Homo sapiens: one gene and its partners. The protein of the gene in region 1 interacts with the protein of each later gene in a pairwise test. Each region holds a gene or a part of one and is shown in the gene's direction. Other genes may lie near its edges. The genes, in order: FRMD6, PARD6B, SSX2IP, PRKCA, SETDB1, MID2 and YWHAG.

Region 1 (3,500 bases):
TTACTTTGATCACAAAAGCATCCTATTTGCCAGTAAATATTTTTTGGAGCTTTTACCATGTTTTCCCCAGTCAGCATTTCTTAACGTATTTAATGATGACTGTATTTATTTCTGATCTCAAGAGATTGTAATGAGTGCTCTGTTAGTATTTCCTTTTGTGGGGAGTATAATAATTGTCGTGACATGTGCCTGTAAAAACATAACAGTAATGTAACATTCACTTCAAAAAAATCCCCAAAAAAAGATTTAAGGAAAGCATTCATTGCATTTCTTCTTGGAGAAGTTTAAAAAACGGAAAAGAAACCTTTGTTAAGCAAATTTTTTTCCAGAAGAGTATATATGCAAATACTTATAAAGGGCCTTAGAGTATTTGTAGTGTGTTCAGTTAAAAAATAATAAAAAGAACAGCAAAACACTGAAGCAGGATTGCTCCTCAGATTTTTCCTTATTTATGTCACGTGTGTAGCATCATTGTAGCAACATTAGTACAGACAACACATGTCTAGTTTCTATTCTAATACTTGTTCAGTGAAATATTTACCATTTTAGAGTGGAATGATTCAGACCTTTTTCTTCTCTGAATGAATCAAATGCTGTAAGCCTTAGGAAACGTTATTTTTATTGTCTGGATAGTCTGATTTGGGGTTCTGACCCCCTGCAACCTCAGTGAGGCAGCTATCAGATATTAGCTACAACCGCTTCCTTTTCAGTGAGGTGGGAGGGAGGAGCAGAAACAGAAGGGTTCCTGTCACCAGATGGAGAGAAGGATTTGGGTTCTGTTTACATGTCATTGGATTATTCCATCAAAATGTGAGTTCTGTTTTCTTTTATTTTTCTAGTGACAGAGCAGCAAGATACTATTATTACTGGCACCTGAGAAAACAAGTTCTTCATTCTCAGTGTGTGCTCCGAGAGGAGGCCTACTTCCTGCTGGCAGCCTTTGCCCTGCAGGCTGATCTTGGGAACTTCAAAAGGAATAAGCACTATGGAAAATACTTCGAGCCAGAGGCTTACTTCCCATCTTGGGTAAGCACTGTTTTCAAATTCGAAAGAGTGTTTTCTCTCGGGCATTTCTAGTTCGTAGTGTTGCTACTCATACTCTTTAAGAAATGGGAACACAGATGTTCTGTGGCCAAATTCTTTGTGATGCCCAGATATTTAATGCTTAAGAACGTGGTGCACATCATGTCTTCATGTACTTAGTCTGCTTATGGTGAGTGGGGTAGAGAATTGCCATCCATCCTGATAATACAGTGGAGCTTGGAATTTACCAGCCTCCTTTCAGCATTGACATGCCCTTGACCTTCTTGCCTACTCTTACCGAAGCAGTATTTTCTCCCTTTGAAGGCAGAAAAACATAACTCTTTAAAAAGTAAGATTATTCCTCGCTTTCCTTTGCTGCGAGAACAAGTATGTCAACTTCTGGCTCCGGCCTCCATGTCCTCCACTCTCGGGGAGGAACTAACCCCTTCTTTCAGCAAGAAAATGTGGGTTATTCCAACGTGAACTGTCTCAGCTGCGCTTTCTCCACTCCACCCTGTCTGTTTCTCTTCCCGTCCTTCCTCCATGTCTAGGCTGTATTTTCTGTCTCTCTTCTATATCATTAGCCCCTCCCCAAAGTAACTCTTCTTCAGTGAGAACATGCAAAACATGTTTGGTTCTCACCCACCCATCCTTGAGAAAGAAAGTGGGGAGGGAAAGAAGAGCTACTACTCTTGCCTTTCCTTCTCAGTAAAGCATCTTGAAGAGGTAGTGTGTATTTGATTTTTTCAGCTTCTTTACTTCCCACAAGTGTTCCTCAAGCCATTTCCATCTGCCTTCTTTCCCCATCAGTCCACTCATGGTGCTGCCTGTTAGGTTGCTTTATATCAATACAGTAAAGAAGTAAAAAATTAAATATGCACTACTTTTGCTTTATATTGACACCAGTTGCTTTATATTAACATATCCAGCAGACTCTTTTCACTAAATTTTGCTGCTGTACCTGACACTTAACTACTCACATCTTGGGAGATCTCATCCAAATTAATGCTTTTAACGATCACCTATGTGAAGGCAAGTCCCAAATCTGGTTTTTTCCCCTATATCCATAAGGTAGCTGTTTACCCATAGGCCGTTCAAACTCAAGATGTCCTAAATCAAATTCATTTTCTTGCCACCTCATTTCTACGTATTCCTACCTCTGAGTACGTGGGAGTCATACGGAACTCTGCCTTATCACCATTCCTTCTCCCTGTCCTGTCCCATCAACTGTAACACCTTGTAATGTCTGTGCTTGAATACCAATCACCCAGCTTAAGAAATAAAATTATCTTCTATTTTTATTGCCATTAGCCTTCCTAAATGTCCATTGCCTCCTCTCCCTGTCTTAGCTCCTGCTGTTTCTAGGTTCGTGTTCTCAGCAGCACTGTTGCAGAAACTTGTCCCTGCTTCGGTCTTTACTCCACAGCTTGCAGATGAGATGATTTTGCTTCTGACTTAAACTTTCAGGGCCTCCTCTGTCACCTGTGGAGTGAAGCTCAGGCTCCCATGCATAACCTAGAAACTCTCCAGATTATAGTCCCTGCCAGCCATTCCAGCTTCCTTTCTGGTTGTCCTGCACCTTGAACTTTAGGCTCTGGCAACATCCAGCCATTGGTGTGTCTCCATACTTACTGTGGTGTTTCATGCTTCAGGTCTTTCTTCTTGCAGTTCCTTTAGCCAGTGAAGCCCCTCTCTGTTTCACCTGGCTAACTCCTACTCATCCTCCGAGACTCAGCCCAGGTGTCGCTCCTTCTGGGCAGACCATCTAGGTGCCCAGTGCTCAAGAAGAACCTGGGAATAGTGTTTTACATCTTATTTTAAAATGATTTATTTCTTGCTCCCAGTAAACTGTTTCTTAGTGTGTTCTGAAAGACGGGCATAACCTTAACCTTTTCTATTTCATCAGCTCTTCATATTGAGGTACTCAGTAATTTTTTGTTGTGTGACTTAGAGTGCTTCATTTTTTTGGAGAGAAATCACAATGTCTGTCAAACTATTGCTGTCTGTAGCATGTTTGCATTCTCTGGTTGTCATCAGGTGCTCATTGAATATTGATTATTGAAATCCAGTTAGTATGCCAGGGCAACCAGTGTGCTGAGATATCAGTTTCCCCCACCCTTGGGATCACCAAAGCCATCTGCTTTAGTGCCCTTACAAATACTGTTTTCAGTGTGCTTTTGACCTGAAAAAAAGGTTGATAAATAACTGATTTAACTGATTACCATGTGAAAAGAACCTGGAAAGAAAAATCTGTGTAACTTGAGTTCTTAGCAGAACTTGACAACTGACTATTAATTCATCATATTTAATTCTCTGTAAAATATTCAATAGGAAGAAACAAAATGTCAATATAAAGACATTTTAAAACCAAAAAGTCTGTAATTTTTAAATTTTGATTATTTTAAGCACGACTCTTGCTCACATTGCATAATTCTTTCCATCTGTTAAGTTCCTTATGGAATCAGCTAAGACTTTAA
Region 2 (3,500 bases), on another chromosome or scaffold:
GAACACCTGAGCTCTAGTGATCCGCCCGTCTCTACCTCTCAAAGTACTGGGACTACAGGCGTGAGCCACTGCACCTAGCTGGTCCATTTTTCTCTTACTATTTTCAATTTTTTTTTATCTTTTTAGAGACAGGGTTTTGCCATGTTGGTCATGTTGGTCTCTAACTCCTGAGCTCAAGTGATATTCCCACCTAGGCCTCCCAAAGTGTTTGGATTATAGGCATTAGCCACCACACTGGGTTCCGGTCCATTTTTAGGATCTCTTTTTCTTCATATAAACAGTAATGTTGGCCAGGCATGGTGGCTCACACCTGTAATCCTAGCACTTTGGGAGGGCAAGGTGGGCGGATCACCTGAGGTCAGGAGTTCAAGACCAGCCTGGCCAACACGGTGAAACCCTGTATCTACTAAAAATATAAAAATTAGTGGGGCGTGATGGCATATGCCTGTAATCCCAGCTACTCCGGAGGCTGATGCAGGAGAATTGCTTGAACCTGGGAGGCGGAGGTTGCAGTGAGCCGAGATTGCGCCACTGCACTTCAGAGCCTGGGTGACAGAGGGAGACTCTGTCTCAAAAAAATAAAAAAATGCAATAAAGCAGTAGTGTCAACATTATTATCTTCACACGTGGAAGGGAAAAATAGTAATGATAAAAGAATGGAGAATGTAAATATACCTATAGTTCAATTTGTGGTACCAGCTAGTATGTGACTTTTCTTTGGTAACTGTTTTATCTTCCTAATTGTATCTCTAGTGTTGGGAAGATTCTTAATCAATAATCTTGATGATGTCCTTTAATAACCCTGGAACAGTCTTTGAGTCATAAAATTTCCTAATTATTATTCATAGGCAAATAGACTATGAAAATTAAGTTTGCATTTCTAGAATGTACCAACAGACACTGGGGGAAGGGAGTCCATACACATTCTGGATGGCTAGGGCAAACTAGGCTATGAAACAGTTGTAAATGGTTCACAAGTGAATAATTGCTGATTGAATCTTAATTTTGTCTCTTAGTGTTTTTGTTCATGTAAAAAGTTCCCTTAATCCTATTGTTGTGTTGCAAGAAGCATAACAATTTCTCTTGGGTTTTTTTTTCCCATGCCAATATTGGCAAAAGTGCAAATATACCATGAAGCCATACAATTTTTTATTGTTTTTATCATAACAGTTAAGCAAGAGAAAATATTGAGCGAAGAAATTTCATCCAAAAGCTTTAACAAAAACATTGAAGCCCTAAAATGTTAAATGATCAGATGTTATTCCCATTCATACATCAGGGGAAGTGATAAACCCTGTGGATGAATCAGCAAGCACTAGCAACTTCATGTTGTGATACCAGAATAAAGAAAATGGAGGAGAAACTGTGACTTTTGATAACATCATGAGACTAACTGATATGAAGGGTGTTCCCTGAGTTTTTATTTACTTTGAAATGTGAAGGTGTGACTAAACTTTTTGAGAGCCTTAGGTATGAGTCACCTTATTTTCTTGACAGATGTTAGTGTTTATGTTTCAGGAATGTGTTTTGGGAACTATTTTAATTTTTGTTAGAGGTAAGAGGTGTTTTTAGTGAGTTTTGATGTTAAAACCACTGAGGAGTATGGGTGTAAGCAGAGCAGGTGAACTTTAGATAGAGCAAAACCAGTGAATCCAGATGTCCCATGGGACCTTTGGGAAAATGAAGTGACATATTTGTAAACTCAAATTATTATGGTAGGGGCTTTCTCTACATGATGCTTAAGGCTGTACCAACAGTATTTCTCTTTTCCTTTTTTCTCTGGGACATAATATTTTTACATTAGTATTTCTTGCTAGTAATAGATAGGTGGAAGAAATATGAGTTCAGTGGTTAAACACATTAGGCAAACGTTCGTTTAAATATTTTTAAAAACCAACATAGGGCTTAAATGAGCCTTTAAAGTGCTGGTCTCCGCAGTGATTCCCAAGAGCATAATTATGTAGCGTTTCTCAAACTTACATGACTGGGACACTTTTTGAGGAAGGCAGATTAACTTTTCTTAGGTTTCCACGTTTGAGGAAATGCCATGTTATTCCCACAGTGTTATAAATCCTGTTTATCATGGACTAGATGAAGCCAGTCCTTAGTGTTTTGGTTTTTTTTTTTTTTTTCTTTTTTGAGACGGAGTCTTGCTCTGTTGCCCAGGCTGGAGTACAGTGGCATGATCTCGACTCACTGCAACCTCTGCCTCCCAGATTCAAGAGAGTCTCCTGCCTCAGCCTCCTGAGTAGTTGGGACTACAGGCATGTGCCACCACACCTGGCTAATTTTTGTATTTTTAGTAGAGACGGGTTTTGCCATGTTGGCTAGGCTGGTTTTGAACTCCTGACCTTGTGATCCTCCCGCCTCAGCCTCTCAAAGTGCTGGGATTACAGATGTGAGCCATCGCGCCTGGCCTCAGTTCTTAGTGTTGAATAAGAGTCACTTTTAATTATTTGACATTGGGAAAACAGAGGTGTAGGGAAACAGACTTCAGAATCAGAACTGTGAAGGTAAGTATTGGGCATGATGGAGGCTGTCTTCCTCCCCATTCCGCCCCATTTGTGTGATCTCTTAATACCTCCCTGAAGTAATTATTCTCTTTACCCACTAATTGGTGAGCTTCTGGAGCAGGCTCGAGGCTTTCAATCTCTAGGGCCTAGCACTGTGCCAAACACATAAACACTTTGTGCGTTAATTGGATAGTTATAGGACATACATTTGATGTATTACTGAAGCTTATTTTTTTCTGCATTAACATAGGGAAGATCATACCTTAACGCCACGTAGCTCACAGTTCTTTTTGTATATTTTGCTGTTGATTCTTACCACATACCATGAAATCCTAGTTCCATTTATGGGGGAGGACACTTAAATGCTTTCCTTTGGTCAAAATAAGGACTTGGACAAGTCTTTGGTACCCCATGATGCACCTGAGGAGAGCATTGCCGTCAGAGTCTGGGCTCCAGACAGGGTTTGAGCTGAGTCACTATGCAGAACAGTCCGCAGTAAGGCCTAGGTACCCCAGGGATAGATAGAGTTGAGCCTGCCTCTCTTGAAAGGAATGCTCTTCAGAGACACAGCAGTCAGGAGGCACATTCTTGTGCCTTTCTTAGGCTTTTTAAAATCCCTGATAGTAAGGTTCTTCACAATAGACAATCTTTCCTTAATTAAAAATACTTGCTCTGCTCGTTAATTTTTCTATGGCATGCATTTTCAAATTGGGTCCTTTTACTTTTTTTTTTTTTTTTAAGTAATATGTTTGTTACGTTTATAGTTTGGAGCTGAATTTCGTCGGTTTTCGCTGGAAAGATCAAAACCTGGAAAATTTGAGGAGTTTTATGGATTACTACAACATGTTCATAAGATCCCCAATGTTGACGTTTTGGTAGGCTATGCAGACATCCATGGAGACTTACTACCTATAAATAATGATGATAATTATCACAAAGCTGTTTCAACGGCCAATCCACTGCTTAGGATATTTATACAAAAGAAGG
Region 3 (3,500 bases), on another chromosome or scaffold:
GAGAAATAACACAGTTATAATGCAGTACAGAATCTGGGTGTCAGACATAAAAATGTCAGACTCTAGCAATGTAGGATTCTGAGATGAGAGAAGAAATAGTCTTTCAAATTAGCAAAAATAAGTTTTTAAATAGAAATGAAACTACAAGCAGTTAAACATTCAGAACAATCTTAACTCCAGTTGTTCTCATCTTTTAACTCTTGCTTCACACATATCCTTTTCTCATATTCTCTTGAGTCACATTTTCGGTTTGATCTACCACACTACTAGCTATGTGATCTTGTGCCCTGGTTGTCGCATTTATGAAGGATAATAACAATACCTGCTTCGTAGGGGTGTGATTAGAAAAATAGGTTAGTATCCAGAACAATGCCTGGAAAAATAGCTCATACTTACTGAGCACTTAATATTTCTACTTGATATAAAAATGCTGTAATTGAGTAAGAACAGACTTTAAAGACAGGATTTTTTTTTTGTCATGCTAGATCTATCCATGAGCGTCTAATAAAGCCTCTACATTCAGAGAAACTAACATTCTTTTAAACTGAGATTCTTGAACAAGTGATTTTCCTTTTCTTATTTGGTGATCATCTTTCTGAAGTCTGATTTTCATTTTTACCCCTCAGCTTTGTCATTAAGTCACTAATCACCGAATTCAACACTTTTTAAAATTCAAAACCTGCCCATTCTATGGCATTTGCTGCTGTGTATCACCCTTTCTCTTTAAAAGTCTTCTCCCTTGGCTTTCCTGAAGTCCGTTCCCCTGTCTCTTTGTATCTCTTGTGTCTGGGTCTGCTTCACTCGCTTATGTTGATGTTCTTTGGGGTTTGTTCTCCTGCCCCTTTTTTCTTTATGAATTCATCTATCTAAATGTGCTCGGATGTCTTGTGAGTTCTAGGCCTAGAGTTTATCCCCATGTGAATGTCTCATAAGGGCATCTCCAAACCCAGTAAGCTACACAAAGCTCATTATCTCCACACATTTGCCCAAACCCAGTTTTACTAACTTTACTCCTCTGTTCCCTTTATCTAAATGACACTATTATCTGTCAAGTGCCAAAGACAGGTTTTTATGTGAGAGAGTAGATGCCTCCCTTTTGTGTACTTGTCACCATGTCCTGAATTATTTCTTACCTGTTCTTCACTATCCTCAGTCACTGACTAAGTCAGCCAGCTGGTCCCTGACCATTAATTGCCCAGTTTACTATAATATCTGTCTCAAAGATTTTTTTTTCAGATTATAAAAGTATTGTATGCTTTTTGTAAAAAAATTTTAAAAATTAAGATAAAAAGCAAAAAAGTATTTAAGTTACTTCATGTGTAGTTCTTGGCATACAGTCAGCACTGAGAATATATTTTTGTGCCACGGTGCTACAAATAGAACTTATTTTGCAAGCATTAAGTTTGGAGGAGATTTGTAGAGAAATATTGTTCTAAAAGAATTGTAGGACTAAATAATTTTGAAATCGTATATAGAGCCTAAATAGTGTAAAGTAGATACTTAAAATTCAAGATGGGTTCCAGCCACTGCCTATACTTTTCATTTGCCTGTTAATTGTAATCTGGTTGTGCTTTCCTATCTATTTTATTCTCTATTCTATAGCCTTCGATTTTATTTTCTATTCTATAGCCAAATTTCAGGAATATCCCCCTGCATAGGATCTAGACTATAAAAGCAAGCCAACATCATAGAAATAATCTGTAAGTACAACCCATCATTAGCCATGTTGTTTTATAATGAGGCGATAGGCTCAGAGAATTGATATCATTTGCTCAGCATATTTGTTGAATGTCAGGAGGAAACCAGGCCTGTGAGGCTTTGGAATCATAAATAGCTAGTTTTTAGTCTTTCCAGGTTAAATAGCTGGATTTTATTTCTGTCTTCCAGGTTTGTAACTGTAAGTTACCTAATCTGTTGCCTCAGTTTCTTCCATCAATAAACCAGTGCTATCTTTACTCCTTCCTAGGGCTAGCGTGAGGATTAAGTGATAACAGCTAATGGAGCCCCATCTGGCATGCATTAGGTGCTCTTGAGTTCATCATCAGCTTCTCTCCTACCAGTTTCACATAATTAGCTAGTACAGGAGTTATTAACTTGCCATCCATGGATCCTTTGCAAATGGATGGCTTCATAGATCCTCTGAAACTCTAGCCCAAATTGCCTGTTCTTGTACTTTTAAAGGAAGAGGGTCATTGGCTTTGGGTTTTGGGACCCAAAACATTTTAACCCCTGAGTTGGCAGTAAGGCCAAGGACCCAGGGCTCTTGGTGCCTCCACAGCCAAACTGACTGGGTAGAATTTAGAATTGTTTGAAATATTGGAGGAACATTTTATATATATGTATTTAAAGCATTTTAAAGGACTTCAGGTGTAAAGAATTAGTTTATATTCCTTGGCTCATGACACGTTTGTTTAATTGGTCCATTTATAGTTTTAATAATACAGTAAGTACCACCTAACCCTGTGCATAACCCTGTGGGCCCCTCCATTCCTTTTTCCTCTGTCCCTCACCTGAGGCAGCTATTTACTGAATCCTATATTCATCATTCTCTCGGTGTCTTTTATAGTTTTATTGCATCACATAATTTAAAACTGTATATATTACATGCCCTATCTTCTGAAAATTTTTTCATTTTATAATACTGAAATTTATATTATGTGTCACTGAAGTTTTCTGATTACTGCATAATATTCCATTTTGTGCATATGGCATAATTTATCCATTCTCCTGTTGGTGGTATATGGGTTGTTTCCAGGGTGATACTCTTGTGCTACTCGCTATTGTGAAGAATGCTGCTGTATAGGTGCACACCTCCTGGCATACGTAGGCAAGAGTTTCGATTGGGTTTCACTAGGAGTGGACTTGCTGGGCTGTAGAGTATGTGAATAGGATAAATGAATATTCAGCTGATGAACTGTTTATTTTTCAGAGTTTCCCCCCATCCTCTAAGGTTTAATAAGCTGCTTAGCCAGGCATTCCCTAGGACTGTTATTTTCAGCCTCCATTTAGTGCTTTGGAACACTTTTACATCATTCTTGGAATCCATTTTGTAGGACCCTTAGATAAGAATTCCTTTTTGGTGTTCTCTAATTGAAAGTGCATATAAATAGAATACTAATTTATACTGAACCACATTCTATAGAACACAGCAGTGATTCTCAAACTTTGTCAGAATTACGTGGAGGTTCTCCCACCACTAAAGTTTCTGAATCTGTAGGTCTGTAGTGGCACTTGATAATTTGCATTTTTATTGAGTCAGGTGATGTTGATGCTGCTGGTCCCAGGACCACACGTTGACAACTATAACCAATGATTGAATTTGGGCTAAATCATTGAAAAAACGATGAGTAGATTTATTAATTATGTTTGGTTTCTTTGTTATTTCCAATGCCTTTAGTAGATGCTATTACCATTTCATTATTTGAGGAGTGAAATACCAATAAATAGTAATTTTAAAATTTGATTTGGACTTCTTAGCTGACTTTTAACCTTAAAAGTTG
Region 4 (3,500 bases), on another chromosome or scaffold:
TCGGGGGGATAGAGTCTCACTGTGTCACCCAGGCTGGAGTGCAGTGGCATGATCTCAGCTCACTGCAGCCTCCGCCTCCTGGGTTCAAGCGATTCTCGTGCCTCAGTCTCCTGAGTATCTGGGATTACAGGTGCCCACCAGCACGCCCGGCTTCTTTTTGTATTTTTAGTAGAAATGGGGTTTCACCATGTTGGCCAGACTGGTCTCAAACTCCCAACATCATGTGATCCACCTGCCTCAGCCTCCCAAAGTGTTGGGATTTGACTCCACATCTTGATCACATCTTTCCCTTGTTTCTCTCTTCTGTCTCTAGCCCTTGTTCTCATCCGCTTCCCCACTTCAATTTTCCTCTTATTTTCTCTTTCCTAGCTTCCCCAGCTTCCCCTCTTCCATCTTCCTTACAACTATTCCTATGAGTAATGCCCCCTAGCATTGCCTCTTAGCCTGACATTCTTGAAACCATACAGTTGAAACCCTGTTAGAACATTACCACACTGTACTGTTTTCCCCGGCATTTGCTTACCACTCCGTAAGCTGTTGGTGCAGTTTCTGCACATCTAAGATTGTTCTCCACCAGTAACTTGTATTAAGAGCAATTATGATCATCACTATTGTGCTCTCACCGAGTGCCTATCACTGCTCTAAGCACTTTACATGGATGAGCCTACATAATCCTTGCTTGAAGGAGATATAATTTTCCAGATGAGGAAACTTAGGAAGATAAAATAGCTTGTCCACAACCACAGAGTGGCAGAGCCAGAATTCAAATGCAGGCAGCCTTGCCCCAGATCCTACACTCTGAGCAGATGGGACCCTAAGTTAGTTGCTCGTAATCCTGATTCAGGTGTCCTGGCATGCCATGAGTCACACTCACACAGGCTGTTCTCTGCTGTGATAAGAAATTGAAATTTGGACCCACTATTTGCTTCAATGACATTTAGAATTGATAACTCTTTTTATTTTCAACTTAAATGGTAGTATCTCAGTAGGACACTCACAGCTTTAAATCCCATCAAGATTTTAACTCATCACCATTCCGAAGAGATCTTACTTAAATGATTTTTTTTGTGTGTGTTGTCTGTCAGGAATATAAATTGAAGATATAAAAGCCAGCACCCGCAATAATTCTGCAACTGGTAGGAGGCAACCCAGGACCTCTTGGTGACCTTAATAAGGGTCTTCTTTGGCTTATCCAGGATGTGACCTTCTGCAGCCTCCAGTATTAGACATTCCAGGGCATTTTCTGCCTTTTAAAAAGCATCTGATTCTCATTCTGGTGTTTAATCAGAGAGAGACCGTTGGCCTCTTTCCATTCCTCATGGGAGAGCTCCATTTTTGTGCTCACATTTTTCATCTTTGGTGATACTCAGGGTTGATGTTTTAGTGGGCTAGACTTTCTGCATTGGATTAAAACCTTTCACATGAGCTTGGTGAATTCTCCAGTGACCAAGTCCCCTGGGGGCCTCCAACCCTATAGATTCCAGCATGATAAGAGTGGAAAGGAGTCCGGAACATCATGCCTGGGGTATAGTGAGCACTCACACCATGGATTTATTTTTTCATTTTCCAAGCCCCCAACCATGTAAGGTATTTTATAAACATTATTTTATTTGATTCTCCCAACAATTCTATACCACTGGAATTATGTCCGTCTTCATTTTTCTAGATGAAGAGACAGAGGCTCAGAGACTAAGCTTCCCAGTGCTCAGGGTTACATGGTGAAGGAGGCAGAGTTTGCATGTACACCTGCTGAGCCACAGGGACCATGCCTATGTGTTTTATTTGTGTGCTATCTGCTCCCTGAGATGAATGAGGTTAGATATTTTCTTAGGAGAAGAAATACTTGGAAGGCACAAATGGGGTATGACAAACTATGTTCAGCTTCTCTGTGGCTAGCAGACCTGAGCTAGCCCCCTCCCCCTCTGTATTTGAATATAGTCCCATCTGTTACCTACCTATGTAAGGCTTCCAGGTAAGGAGGATGTAAGGCTGTTGGCTGGCAGGAGGCAGAACACAGTAGATCCACAGACTAGTAAAGGCAATGCCTGTCTCTGACTTCCGATCTTAGGGCTGTACCTCCCTCATTTGTGTCCAAAGACCCAACATCTTTAGGGTTCTCCCCCTGCCTCCTCCCCATCTAACCCTGCCCACTGACAACTCCAGTGCCTTCTTCTCAAGTTCTTCTGTAATTCTTAATTTAATAATCAAACTATGCTGATAAACTATGCTAATTGCCTAGATCTGTGGTTCTGCAACTTTTATGGACATCAGAATCACCTGGAGGCTTGGTAAACACAGATCATTGGACCTCACCCCAGAGTTCTGATTCAGGAGGTGTTGCCAGTGCCGCCGGTCCAGGGACCACACTGTGGGAACCACTGAATCAGGGAGCCTGGTCCCAGTTATATGTGTGTTGATGGTGTCTGACCAGTTGGGTATCTGATAATTCAGCCTTACTGGGAAAGATGCCATGGGAAGATAGGAAGGCATTTGAGATAGGAGACTCAGGCTTTTGTCCCTTCATCATAGCAGTAGATAATTATCTTTTACGTTGACGTGCAGTGGCTTTAGACAGCTTCTCATGGTTGTGAGCCTCTGCCAGCTCTTAAATCTTTGAGCCTGTTTTCCTCTGTGGATGAAATGGCCTTTCCTTCTAATTATTTTTGATTCCCATATCAGGTTTCTCAAGCTAAGATTGCATTGGAAGCACCTGGAGGTCTTGTTAAAGTGAGGATTCTGAGTTATTAAGTCTGAGGTGGGACCCAAGGTTCTGCATGTCTAATGAGCTCCCAGGTGATATAGATGCTGCCGGTCCATGGACCAGCAATTCTGAGTTACAACTGTATACAGCAGTGGTGCTTGCCCCTGCTGCCCAGTAGAATCACCCAAGGAGCTTTTAAAAACGAATACTTGAGCCACATTCCTTGGAGATTCTAGTTTAATTCTGGGGATTAGAATTTTTAACTCCCCCATTCCCCAACCCCCATGTGATTCCAATGTACAGTCAGAGTTGGAAGCCATTGGCCTTTACCCACAAAAAGGGATAACACCTTCTGGGAGCTCAGGTGCGTGTGTGGCACCATAGACCAGGTTGGGCTGGTCGCTTCCATGCAGGGAGGGTGCACCATTACTCCTGGGGAGCTGCAAAGGTCACCTGGGAATCTTGTTAAATTACAGATTCTGCTTTGGCAGGTTTGGGGTGGGACCTGGGTTTCTGCATTTCTAATAGATATCTTAGTGTTGCTGATGCTGCCAGTCCAGGCTGGTGCTAAGTCCCAAGACCCACCCACAAGGGCCCACACGATGCCCATTATCTCTGCCGGTGGTGGCAGCGGGTAGCTTTTCTCATGTCGAGTGTTAGAGGCTTTTGGCTTCCACCATCTGTCTCCTTAAACGCCATTCTGACGTCTCTTTTATTCAGCTTGGTATTGACACAAGACAGCGGGCAATATAGGTCTGTTCTCTTTTTGTAATATTTTCTTCCTTCTCTCTTCACAGTA
Region 5 (3,500 bases), on another chromosome or scaffold:
GCTTTAAGGATAGAATATGTATATATAAGGCATTCACACAATGCCAAACACAAAAGTATATGCTTAGTAACTAGAAGCTGCTCTTACCATCTTTATCTGGAGAGAGGATATGACTAAAATCGTGAACTAACTGAGCTGTTGATACATTTCCAAAGTAAATTTCTTCCATTGATTTTACATACCAAGAAAATAAGTAAAATTCTAACACTGGGCAAATAGAGCAAAAACATTGTTACCTGAAACAATTAGTTTTCTTAGTATAACTGTGTTATCTTCCTTTAATGTTGGTATGTGCTAGATCCCTCTGATTACCTTTAATGGTTGTTTAAAAATAATTAAAATTTTTTTCTTTTTCAGAGATGGGGTGGACTTGCTTTGTCATTCAGGCTGGAGCGCAGTGGTATGATCATAGCTCACTGAAACCTCGAACTCCTGAGCTCAAGTGATCTTCTCACCTCAGCATCCTCAGTAGCTGGGATTACAGGCATGAGCCACTGCGCCTGGCCCAAATTCTTAAATTAGATAGAATATGAGCTCCCCTGGGCTGGGCACGGTGGCTCACACCTGTACTCCCAGCCCTTTGGTTCGCTAAGGCAGGCGGATCACATGAGGTCGGGAATTCGAGACCAGCCTGATCAACATGGATAAACTCCATCTCTACTAAAAATACAAAATTAGCAAGGCACGGTGGCGCGTGCCTGTAATCTCAGCTACTTGGGAGGCTGAGGCAGGAGAATCACTTGAACACGGGAGGTGGAGGTTGTGAGCTGAGATTGCGCCATTGCACTCCAGCCTGGGCAATGAGAGCGAAACTCTGTCTCCAAAAAAAAAAAAAAGAGCTCCCTGAGGGTAGAAATTATGACCTTTTTTTTTTTCTTTTTTTTCTTTTTTCTTTTTTTTTTTTTTTGTGACAGAGTCTCACCCTGTCGCCCAGATTGGAGTGCAGTGGCTTGATTTTGGCTCACTGCAACCTCCGCCTCCTGGGTTCAAGGAATTCTCCTACCTCAGCCTCCCAAGTAGCTGGGACTACAGATGCATGCCACCACACCCGGCTAATTTTTTAATTTTTATTAGAGACGGGGTTTTACTGTGTTAGCCAGGATGGTCTCACTCTCCTGACCTCGTGATCCACCCACCTTGGCCTCCCAAAGTGCTGGGATTATAGGCATGAGCCACCACGCCCAGCACGATCTTTTTCATTGTTATGTTTCCAGTGTTTAGTAGAGCTCTTGGTGTTTAATAATTGTTTACTGAATGAAAGAATGAAAATCAACTTTACCATGAACATTAGTCACAGTTCCTCCTATCTCTTTATTCCCTTTCGTATCTGTTATGTTGGCCTCTGTTTTTCTCACATTTATTTATTTTTATTATTATTATTATTTTTGCTGTTGTTAGTAAGAAACCTCACCAGGAATTTCTCACATGTCTTTATTTTGTGCATCTATTTCTACAAATTGACCGTCCATATAGTGCTTATTTTAATGGCTCTGTAATCTGTATTCCCATTATAGTTTACTTAGCTTTTCTCCAGGTGTTAGGCACTCTAGCATTCACTTTTATGAGCTGTCTTGCTATAGACATCTTTATAAATATTTCTCCGCCCTCTAAATTTTTTCCTTGGGCTACATTTCCAAATGAATCAAAGAGCATAGATGGTTCAATAGATCCACTCACTTAGATCATTACCTAATTTTTAATCTTTATCCACAACACATTATAAATGATGATAGCTTAAGAATTATAATAGTTTTATGGATTTTTTTGTGCTCTAGTGATCATACCGTGATTGATTTTATTCTAACCTCCTCCCAGGGTATATGAGTGTAACAAACGCTGCAAATGTGACCCAAACATGTGCACAAACCGGTTGGTGCAACATGGACTACAAGTTCGGCTACAGCTATTCAAGACACAGAACAAGGGCTGGGGTATCCGCTGCTTGGATGACATTGCCAAAGGCTCTTTTGTTTGTATTTATGCAGGTTGGTGATAAAATATAAGGGTTGTTTCCTGAGACTGGGACATGGTAGGGAATTGAACCAGAGACAAATTGAACATAAGAAGAAAGTGCTTGACATGTGAACTGGAGTAAGAGGAGGCCAGGGACTTCTACAAAGAACGTGATGAGTGATGTACCTGTCTAGCTAGACCAGAGAGGGACACAAGTGTTTCACAAATAAGAGAATGAAAAGGGATGAAATTTTGGACATGGTGATATTTCAGAGAACAGACATGATTATAGAGTCCAGTGTATCATTTTCTCCCATGTCACTCCACTCAGAGATCTTTTAGCATAGCCCAGTACTCTGTTTCAATAAAGTAGAAGAAATGGAAAGACAGAAAGGGCAAGATTTAAAATGACAGTAAGTTCTCCATACTTTCATAGTTAAGATACAAAGGGAGGTATTATCAAAGAGAAACACTGGGCCGGCGTGGTGGCTCATGCCTGTAATCCCAAAACTTTGGGAGGCCGAAGTGGGTGGATCACCTGAGGTCAGGAGTTGGAGACCAGCCTGGCCAACATAGTTGAAACCCCATCTCTACTAAAAATACAAAAATTAGCCAGGTGTGGTGGTGGATGCCTGTAATCCCAGCTACTTGGGAGGCTGAGGCAGGAGAATCACTTGAACCCTTGAGGCAGAGATTGCAGTGAGCCGAGATCATGCCACTGCACTCCAGCCTGGGTGACAAAAGCGAAACTCTGTCTCAAAAACAAAACAAAAAAAAAAACAGAAATGAGAGACCAGAATGGAGGCTTTTTGACTCTATATGCTGGTAGAGCGGGTATTGATGGAATAATCCTTATTCTTTCTAATAGGTCCCCGTGGCCGGGTGCGGTGGCTAACACCTGTAATCCCAACACTGTGGGAGGCTGAGGCGGGCAGATCACCTGAGGTCAGGAGTTCGAGACCAACCTGGCCAACATGGTGAAACGCCATCTCTACCAAAAATACAAAAAAAATTAGCCAGGCATGGTGGCGTGCACCTGTAGTCCTATCTACTCAGGAGGCTAAGGCAGGAGAATCACTTGAACCTGGGAGGCAGAGGTTGCAGTGAGCCGAGATCGCGCCACTGCACTCCAGCCTGGGTGACAGAGCAAGACTCCATCTGGAAAAAAAAAAAAAAAAAAGCAAACAAAAAAAAAAACTAATAGGTCCCCATAACCCTAGAAGGCCTTTAATTCTCTTCATTCTCAGGCAAAATCCTGACAGATGACTTTGCAGACAAGGAGGGTCTGGAAATGGGTGATGAGTACTTTGCAAATCTGGACCATATCGAGAGCGTGGAGAACTTCAAAGAAGGATATGAGAGTGATGCCCCCTGTTCCTCTGACAGCAGTGGTGTAGACTTGAAGGACCAGGAAGATGGCAACAGCGGTACAGAGGACCCTGAAGAGTCCAATGATGATAGCTCAGATGATAACTTCTGTAAGGATGAGGACTTCAGCACCAGTTCAGTGTGGCGGAGCTATGCTACCCGGAGGCAGACCCGGGGCC
Region 6 (3,500 bases), on another chromosome or scaffold:
AAACCCTCAGCATTATACTTTTTTTTTCCTTTGAGACGAAGTCTCGCTCTGTCACCCAGGCTGGAGTGCAGTGGTGTGATCATGGCTTGCTGCAGTCTTGACCTCTCTGGCTCAAGCAATCCTCCCATCTCAGCTTCCTTAGTAGCTGGGACTATAGGCACACACCATCACACCCGGCTAATTTTTGAATATTTTGTAGAGACAGGATTCACCATGTTTCCCAGTCTGGTCTCAAACTCCTGAGCTTAAGGGATCCACCTGCCAAGTCCAAGTGTTGGGATTACAGGTGTGAGCCACCACACCCAGCCAACATTATACTTTTCAAAGAAAGCACTTCCTTTACCTTTTACTGAGTTAGTGGATTGACTGGGTGTAAGCAGGAATCTTAGCTTACTGAAAACCTTTAGCTTCCCACCCCCAGAGCCAAATCGTATCATTGTACGTAGGTCCTAAATCTGGTTTTTCTCCAATACATGTTCAACTGAATGAAAACATACATGCAACTAGGCATACAGAGTAATAATGATCAATTTAAGTTGAGGCTTGAATCATTTCTAATGCACTCTAACCTAACAATCTGAGTCAGACTAATTTGAAGACATAACCTCACCCATTTTTTAGCCTATATGGGGGCAGTTTGTTAGCTTCTAATGAAAAGTGTCATAAATAATTTGGGGTATGGCTATATAAGCATGATTAGCACCTAGTAGCAGAGTCAACAATATTAAGCACCTATAATGTGCAGAGGACCTCTGCTGATTGGGCTGAGGCCCCAGATTTAGCCCAGTATTTTGGCCTCCTGCTTGTTCCACGCCAAACTCCATACTTGCAACTCCAGGATTAGGTCAGGGAGGGGCTGTGCAGGACATGGGTAGAGGCTAGGGACATGAAAGGGTGGTTGTGTCCCTCTTATTTGTTTTCATGACTACTAGAATTCTCGTCTGGCATGTTGCACCCTGCAAGGCCACCTCTGGGAAGTACTCCTGTAAATCAGAGTGACTTGATTGCTTTATGAACATATCATCTGAATGGTGCAAATTGATTTAGATAAAACTGATTTAGTTAATCCCTTCCCTAAGAGCAGGGAAACTTGCTTCAACTCGCAGATCCTAAAGTGGTGCCAGTGGAGTCTCACAATTGCATCCAAATATTGCTCTGAGTAGTGAGCCTGTCCATTCCTTCATCCCTCCTCCCATAAAATCTGCTGACACCACAATAATTGACAAGGGAACTACACAAGGAGTATGTCTGTCTTCATCATTCAGCAAACCTCATTGGCTTGGTGAAGAGGAGAGAATGTTGTCTTCTCATTCTATCCCATAGAACTCAAGCTCTGTCTTTTCAGACAGGGACACAGAGCCCTTAAAAGGGTGAAGACAGGGCTGTGGGCACAGAATATGTCTCAAATGGCTGCTCTTGGAAATACCTGCTTGGTCTTGTGTGTGTCTGCCATTCAATCTTTATGAATCTTGGTAATATCCTTGCTGTTAGGCCATGGGGCTCGGCTGCTAGTAGAGGCCAGGGGGTGCTCCATTTCCATTTAGCATTAAGTTTTTGTCCTCTCTTTGGCACAAAAGCGAGAATGAAGCTCTGTGTTCATGAAGCACTCCTTACTCATTAAGCTGGGTGTCTTGACTTAGAACATTGCATCATCAAAATATGAGATGTAACATGTTGATACTGGATATACAACAGTTTTGGATAATTCAAAATTGTTTACATTTTGATAAATGAAATTTTGGTACCAAGATGGTGTTGCACTAACATCTGTACTTCAGGTCTCTCAAAAAATATTGTGTTCATCACTAAGCAGTGTACAGAAGAGACTAGAAAAGTGTTTCTCAACTGGTGTGTTGGGTCATGCTAGCAAGTGAGAAGACCAGATGAGTGGTGTTGAGACAAGAAATTCCAGCTGTAATTATCTTCTTGTACAGATAGCTAATCTACTTTTTATTTACCTCCTCAATATATTAAATATGTTCCTTTCTCCACTTTCATGTATTAAAACTCTGCTAAGAGTTTTCTGTGGGCTTAAGTAGTCTGTGGCTGTTTCTATTTGTTTCTCTCTTTCTGTCTTCCCCTTCTTTATGACCATAGGCAGATATAATCCTTTTGATGATGAATCTCCCAGATGCTGAGTTTTCTTTTAGAAATTCTATAAATTACTAAGACTACTAGATAGTATAAGATGCTTAAAGTGTGGGTGGTGGAGGGATTTTGAGTAATGTGCCAGCATCCCATTATTTCCTTTTCCTTGTGGGATTCACCTGAATACACTCTAGGATGCTGGTTCAGCCTAAGTGGGTTGGCAAAGTATCATTTGTAAGCATTATCCTACTTGGGTTCTGGCCTCCCTGCAGAGCTCTGGCTGCCTGACCTTGGGCTTTGTCTCAGCTTCCTTCCCGTAGGTCAGACTCCGCTGGTTGATGAACGGCATCCCCAGTCTCTGGATCATCGTCTTACTGAGACCGAACAATCTGATAACAAACCCATCATACAATCTGAAATCGTCCTGAAACATGAAATCCCAGTATTTGCAATTTGCCTGGATAGGAGCATAATGTATGGGCATGGCAGACAATGCTAATTCATGACAGTGAAGTGTCTTAATATATACAGCACAGAGATAGAAAAATGGTTTACGATCCAGATCCTTGATCACTTTGTGTATAGCCCTTTGTTCAGTGTTGCTAGGATCCATGTGGTTCCCAGGGAAGTAGAAGCTTGATTTCAAATAGGCCTCTGTTCTCTGTCCCTTGTTTCTGACCTGAACTTGGGGTCCTCTCAGCCTAACATTCAATAACATGTCTTACATACATATATTGCCATTTTTATTGTGTAGATGACTGCCTGTCCAGGTGAACCACTGAACATTTAAAAACTTACAAATATTTTGTTGGGTAACAGAGGTTAGGAAAAGCAATCCTAGAGGAGATGGAAAGCTGTACCAGTAGTCATAGGTAAATTAAGTTTGTTTTCCATTTGTTCCTCAACCCTGCAACTGCCAGTGTAATCTGCATTAAGATAAAGGTGTTATGAATTGTATTTAGGATTCCTGTCAATTATCATGTGTTACCTTGGCAAATCCATTTGTTGGTTACTTGGATTAACCTTTTGGGTTTGTAGCAGATTTAGGACTTCTAGTTCTGCTATTTTGATACTCATTTTAATGTTTATATGATGACTATCTTGTATAAAATACTCAATGTTTGGATTTAAAAACTAATTATTGAAAAGAACATACATTAATTCCATGTACTATAAAATATTAAGTAGGCTTTAATAACCTATTAGACAGGAGCTGGCACTGGTGCTCTCTGCCAGTCGGTAATCAGCCTCCAGTTCTGAGTTCTCCCTGTGCAGGATGAAAGTTTAAGAGAAAAGAAAAGAGACAGCCCTTCACTTGGAGAGGGGTGGGGATCCCAGTCTAAAAGTGAAGACATGAGCATAACAAATACCATGATCAGTCCCATGATCTTCCAGAAGTCTTGTGGAGGAGT
Region 7 (3,500 bases), on another chromosome or scaffold:
CATACAACTCTGGGGAATAAAAACTGAAACTTTCTACATTTTCCAACAGCCATGACAGTAAATTTTGGGGACCATGTTTACAAGTGTTGCATTCGTAGAAACAATTTATTAACCAGGGTGTGATGGGAGGCTGAGGTGGGAGGATCACCTGAGCCTGAGAAGTTGAGGCTGCAGTGAGCTGTGATCACGCCATTTCTCTCCAGCCTGGGCAACAGAGTGAGACCCCATTTCTTTTCTTTTCTTTCTTTCTTTCTTTTTTTTTTTAAAGAAGAAGAAGGTTAGGCAGAATGGCTCATGTTTGTAATCCCAGAACTTTAGGAGGCCAAGGCTGGAGGATCACTTGTGCTCAGGAGTTCGAAACCAGCCTGGACAACATAGGGTGACCCTGGTCCCTACAAAAAATACAAAAATTAGGGGGCGTGGTGGTAGATGCCTGTAGTCCCAGCTTCTCTGGAGGCTGAGGCAGAGGAGTTTGTGGCGTGGCTGCAGTGAGCTGTGATTGCACCACTGTACTCCAGCCAGGGCAACAGAGTGAGACCCTGTCTCTGTTTAAACAACAACAACAAATTTAATGACTGTTTTGAAAAATGTTACCTCCCTTCCCAAATGATACAAGATCCCGTATCTTCCCACATTGAATAGTCATTCTGTCATTCTGTCTTGATTAAATCATTTTAGACACTATTAGAATAACTTGTTCTTTTAAGAGGTTATCTGTTGACCTTTAAAACTAATATGGTGGGGATCTCTTATTTTAATTTAAAAATAACAGATTCTTATGCAAGTAATTATGATCTAAAGGATAAAGGATTTTTAAAAATTTTGATTTAAGGTGTTCAGAACAACTTTTCTTTAGACTTTTTAGAGCTGAAGGGTTTCCCCTCTAACTTAGTTTTTCACTGGCAGGGAACATCTGGGCGTGTTCCAAATGTGGTCGAGCTACTGTATCCAAAGGTGATCCTGGCATTTCATAATCTCCTTGTTCCAATGTGTCTGGGGACAGCTAGGCAGACTTTACATAAGTACAGATTGCCTCTCTGGGCACTGCTGGGAGACTTCATTTGTGGCAGGAGGAGTGCCCCCAGGACTGGTGAGATAATTTGAGCTTTAAATAGCTCCTGGCCCTTGAAATAAGGACAACATGATTTAGGGGAAAGGCCAGAACTTGATCTTTGTGGCCTTCGGCACGCTGGCCTCTCCTTGCACTGGAGGCAGTCATGAGGGCTGCACCGCGGGGCGGTTTGTCTTCAGCATTCGCACACTCAGTAAAGTATGCCAGAGATGGGTGGCAGCAGCGCCCAAGGGCTCAGCTCCTTCCAAAGCCAAGTCTGGGCAGTTTTTTTTCAGGCTGTATGGAACTAGGGTTTATGGAAAGGAAGCGATGTGAGGCAGCTAAGGCAGTTTCCGCTTAATATAGAGAAGAGGATGAAACGGAGAAGAGACACTCGATACAGGAAGATGAGCTGGGAGATCGTTAGGAAATGTAGACATCCCCTGTGGTGAGAACTAAAATGAAGGAAAATTATTCAGGGTATTCTTAAAAGTAGTTCCTCATGTTTCTGTAGCATTTTACTTTTTCAAGAAGACTTTGCTGGGCACAATGGCTGTCACCTGTAATCCCAGCACTCTGAGCGGCCAAGGTGGGAGGATCACTTGAACTAAGGGTTCAAGACCAGCCTGGGCAACATAGTGAGACCTTGTCTCTACTAAAAATTTTTAAATGGCTGGATGCAGTGGCTCACACCTGTAATCCTAACACTTTGGGAGGCTAAGGTGGGTGGATCACTTGAGGCCAGGAGTTCAAGGCCAGCCTGGGCAACATGGCAAGACCTTGTCTCTACAGAAAAATACAAAAATTAGCTGGGTGTGGTGGCATGTGCCTTAGTCCCAGCCACTCAGGAGGCTAAGGTAGGATTGCTTGAAGCCCTGGGAGGCTGAGGTTGCAGTGAGCCAAGATAGTGCCACTGCACTTCCAGCGGATTGATATAGTGAGACCCCATCTCTAAATAAAGAAATAAATAAATCAGCCATAGACTGAGGCGGGTGGATCACTTGAGGCCAGGAGTTTGAGACCATCCTGGCCAACATGGCAAAACGCTGTCTCTACTAAAAATACAAAAACTAGCCAGGCATGGTGGCACACGCCTGTAATCCCAGCTACTCGGGAGGCTGAGGCAGGAGAATCGCTTGAACTTGGGGGGAGGTTGCAGTGAGCCGACATCATGCCATTGCACTCCAGCCTGGGCAACAGAGTGAGACCAGGTCTTTTTGAAACTCTGTCTCCAAAAAAAAAAAAAAAAGAAATCAGCCATGCATGGTGGTGCACACCTGTAGTCCCAGGTACTCTGGAGATTGAGGTGGGAGGATTGCTTGAGCCCAGTAGTTTGAGGCTGCAGTGAGGTGTGATCATGCCTCTGCACTTCAGCTTGGGAAACAGAGTAAGACCATGTCTCAAAAAGAACAAAAAAAGACTTTCTTATTTGTCTGATATACCTGTATATTACCTTATGAAAGAAGCAGAAATCCCCATTTTGCAGATAAGAAAACCAAAGCCCAGAGAAATGAAGCGGCTTGTCCCCAAGATTGCTTAGCGAATGATGGAGCTGGGAAAAGCCCAATCTTCCGTTATTTGTGGACACATCAGAATTCAGCATGAGTGACAGCGGTCTGCTGGATGACAGATCGTCAGTGCAGAATGAGACACGAGGTGCCTGTGTTTATTCATGCAGGAGGAGTGTTTGCAGAAGTGCCGGGAACAAGAGGTGGTGGAGCAAAGCATCTCTTTCCTGGTTTCCTTCTGCTCTGAACTCAAGTAGTACCCACCCCCTATTCTTCCCCTCTTTTGAGTCTGTTTCACTGAGGGCACGGCTGGTAGGAGTAACGTTGTCCAGCATTAAAACAGAGCATCAGTAATGTCTAGGAAAATGTTAACTTTAACAACACCACTAATCAGTTTAGAGAATATTTGAGCGTGTAGCACTTGCTGATCATTCATTCAGAAAATGAATTGCCTGCCATAAACTAATAAGCATGATTTGGTTTATGTTTTGATTTAATTATCTCTGAGTAGATGCTGCTTGAAGTAATGACTGTAATCACTTTTGCCAAGCATACCCCCCGTTTATAATTTAAGAAAAAAAATTTTTTTTTTTTTGAGATGGGGCCTTGTTATGTTGGCCAGGCTGGTCTTGAACTCCTGGCCTCAAGCAGTCCTCCCCACCTGGTGTCTCAAAGCACTGGGATTACAGGCATGGGCCAACATACTGAACATAATGATTCAAACATAGAAAAAAAAGTCTCCTGGTAGTTCAGTTCCCCCATGCCCCAGGAGTTTAGTACAGGGGTGTCCAGTCTTTTGGCTTCCCTGGGCCACATTCCCTTGGGCCACACATAAAATACACTAACACTAACAATAGTTGATGAGCTAAAAAAAAAAAAAAAATCGCAAAAAGAATTCTCAGTGTTTTAATAGAGTTTACGAATTTGTGTTGGGCTGCATT

What was found.
Region 2: the proteins of FRMD6 (region 1) and PARD6B interact in binary tests that used the Homo sapiens proteins (3 or more experiments, as listed by UniProt).
Region 3: the proteins of FRMD6 (region 1) and SSX2IP interact in binary tests that used the Homo sapiens proteins (3 or more experiments, as listed by UniProt).
Region 4: the proteins of FRMD6 (region 1) and PRKCA interact in binary tests that used the Homo sapiens proteins (3 or more experiments, as listed by UniProt).
Region 5: the proteins of FRMD6 (region 1) and SETDB1 interact in binary tests that used the Homo sapiens proteins (3 or more experiments, as listed by UniProt).
Region 6: the proteins of FRMD6 (region 1) and MID2 interact in binary tests that used the Homo sapiens proteins (3 or more experiments, as listed by UniProt).
Region 7: the proteins of FRMD6 (region 1) and YWHAG interact in binary tests that used the Homo sapiens proteins (3 or more experiments, as listed by UniProt).

The regions. Positions count from the first base shown.
Region 1 is NC_000014.9:51,703,910-51,707,409, forward strand, and holds part of FRMD6 (FERM domain-containing protein 6), read left to right. Parts: intron 1-839; coding exon 840-1,026; intron 1,027-3,500.
Region 2 is NC_000020.11:50,734,580-50,738,079, forward strand, and holds part of PARD6B (partitioning defective 6 homolog beta), read left to right. Parts: intron 1-3,277; coding exon 3,278-3,500. UniProt on the Homo sapiens protein: Adapter protein involved in asymmetrical cell division and cell polarization processes. Probably involved in formation of epithelial tight junctions.
Region 3 is NC_000001.11:84,683,962-84,687,461, reverse strand, and holds part of SSX2IP (afadin- and alpha-actinin-binding protein), read left to right. Parts: intron 1-3,500. UniProt on the Homo sapiens protein: Belongs to an adhesion system, which plays a role in the organization of homotypic, interneuronal and heterotypic cell-cell adherens junctions (AJs).
Region 4 is NC_000017.11:66,683,613-66,687,112, forward strand, and holds part of PRKCA (protein kinase C alpha type), read left to right. Parts: intron 1-3,498; coding exon 3,499-3,500. UniProt on the Homo sapiens protein: Calcium-activated, phospholipid- and diacylglycerol (DAG)-dependent serine/threonine-protein kinase that is involved in positive and negative regulation of cell proliferation, apoptosis, differentiation, migration and adhesion, tumorigenesis, cardiac hypertrophy, angiogenesis, platelet function and inflammation, by directly phosphorylating targets such as RAF1, BCL2, CSPG4, TNNT2/CTNT, or activating signaling cascade involving MAPK1/3 (ERK1/2) and RAP1GAP.
Region 5 is NC_000001.11:150,957,363-150,960,862, forward strand, and holds part of SETDB1 (histone-lysine N-methyltransferase SETDB1), read left to right. Parts: intron 1-1,815; coding exon 1,816-1,985; intron 1,986-3,200; coding exon 3,201-3,500. UniProt on the Homo sapiens protein: Histone methyltransferase that specifically trimethylates 'Lys-9' of histone H3. H3 'Lys-9' trimethylation represents a specific tag for epigenetic transcriptional repression by recruiting HP1 (CBX1, CBX3 and/or CBX5) proteins to methylated histones.
Region 6 is NC_000023.11:107,828,866-107,832,365, forward strand, and holds part of MID2 (probable E3 ubiquitin-protein ligase MID2), read left to right. Parts: intron 1-3,500. UniProt on the Homo sapiens protein: E3 ubiquitin ligase that plays a role in microtubule stabilization. Mediates the 'Lys-48'-linked polyubiquitination of LRRK2 to drive its localization to microtubules and its proteasomal degradation in neurons.
Region 7 is NC_000007.14:76,331,492-76,334,991, reverse strand, and holds part of YWHAG (14-3-3 protein gamma), read left to right. Parts: intron 1-3,500. UniProt on the Homo sapiens protein: Adapter protein implicated in the regulation of a large spectrum of both general and specialized signaling pathways. Binds to a large number of partners, usually by recognition of a phosphoserine or phosphothreonine motif.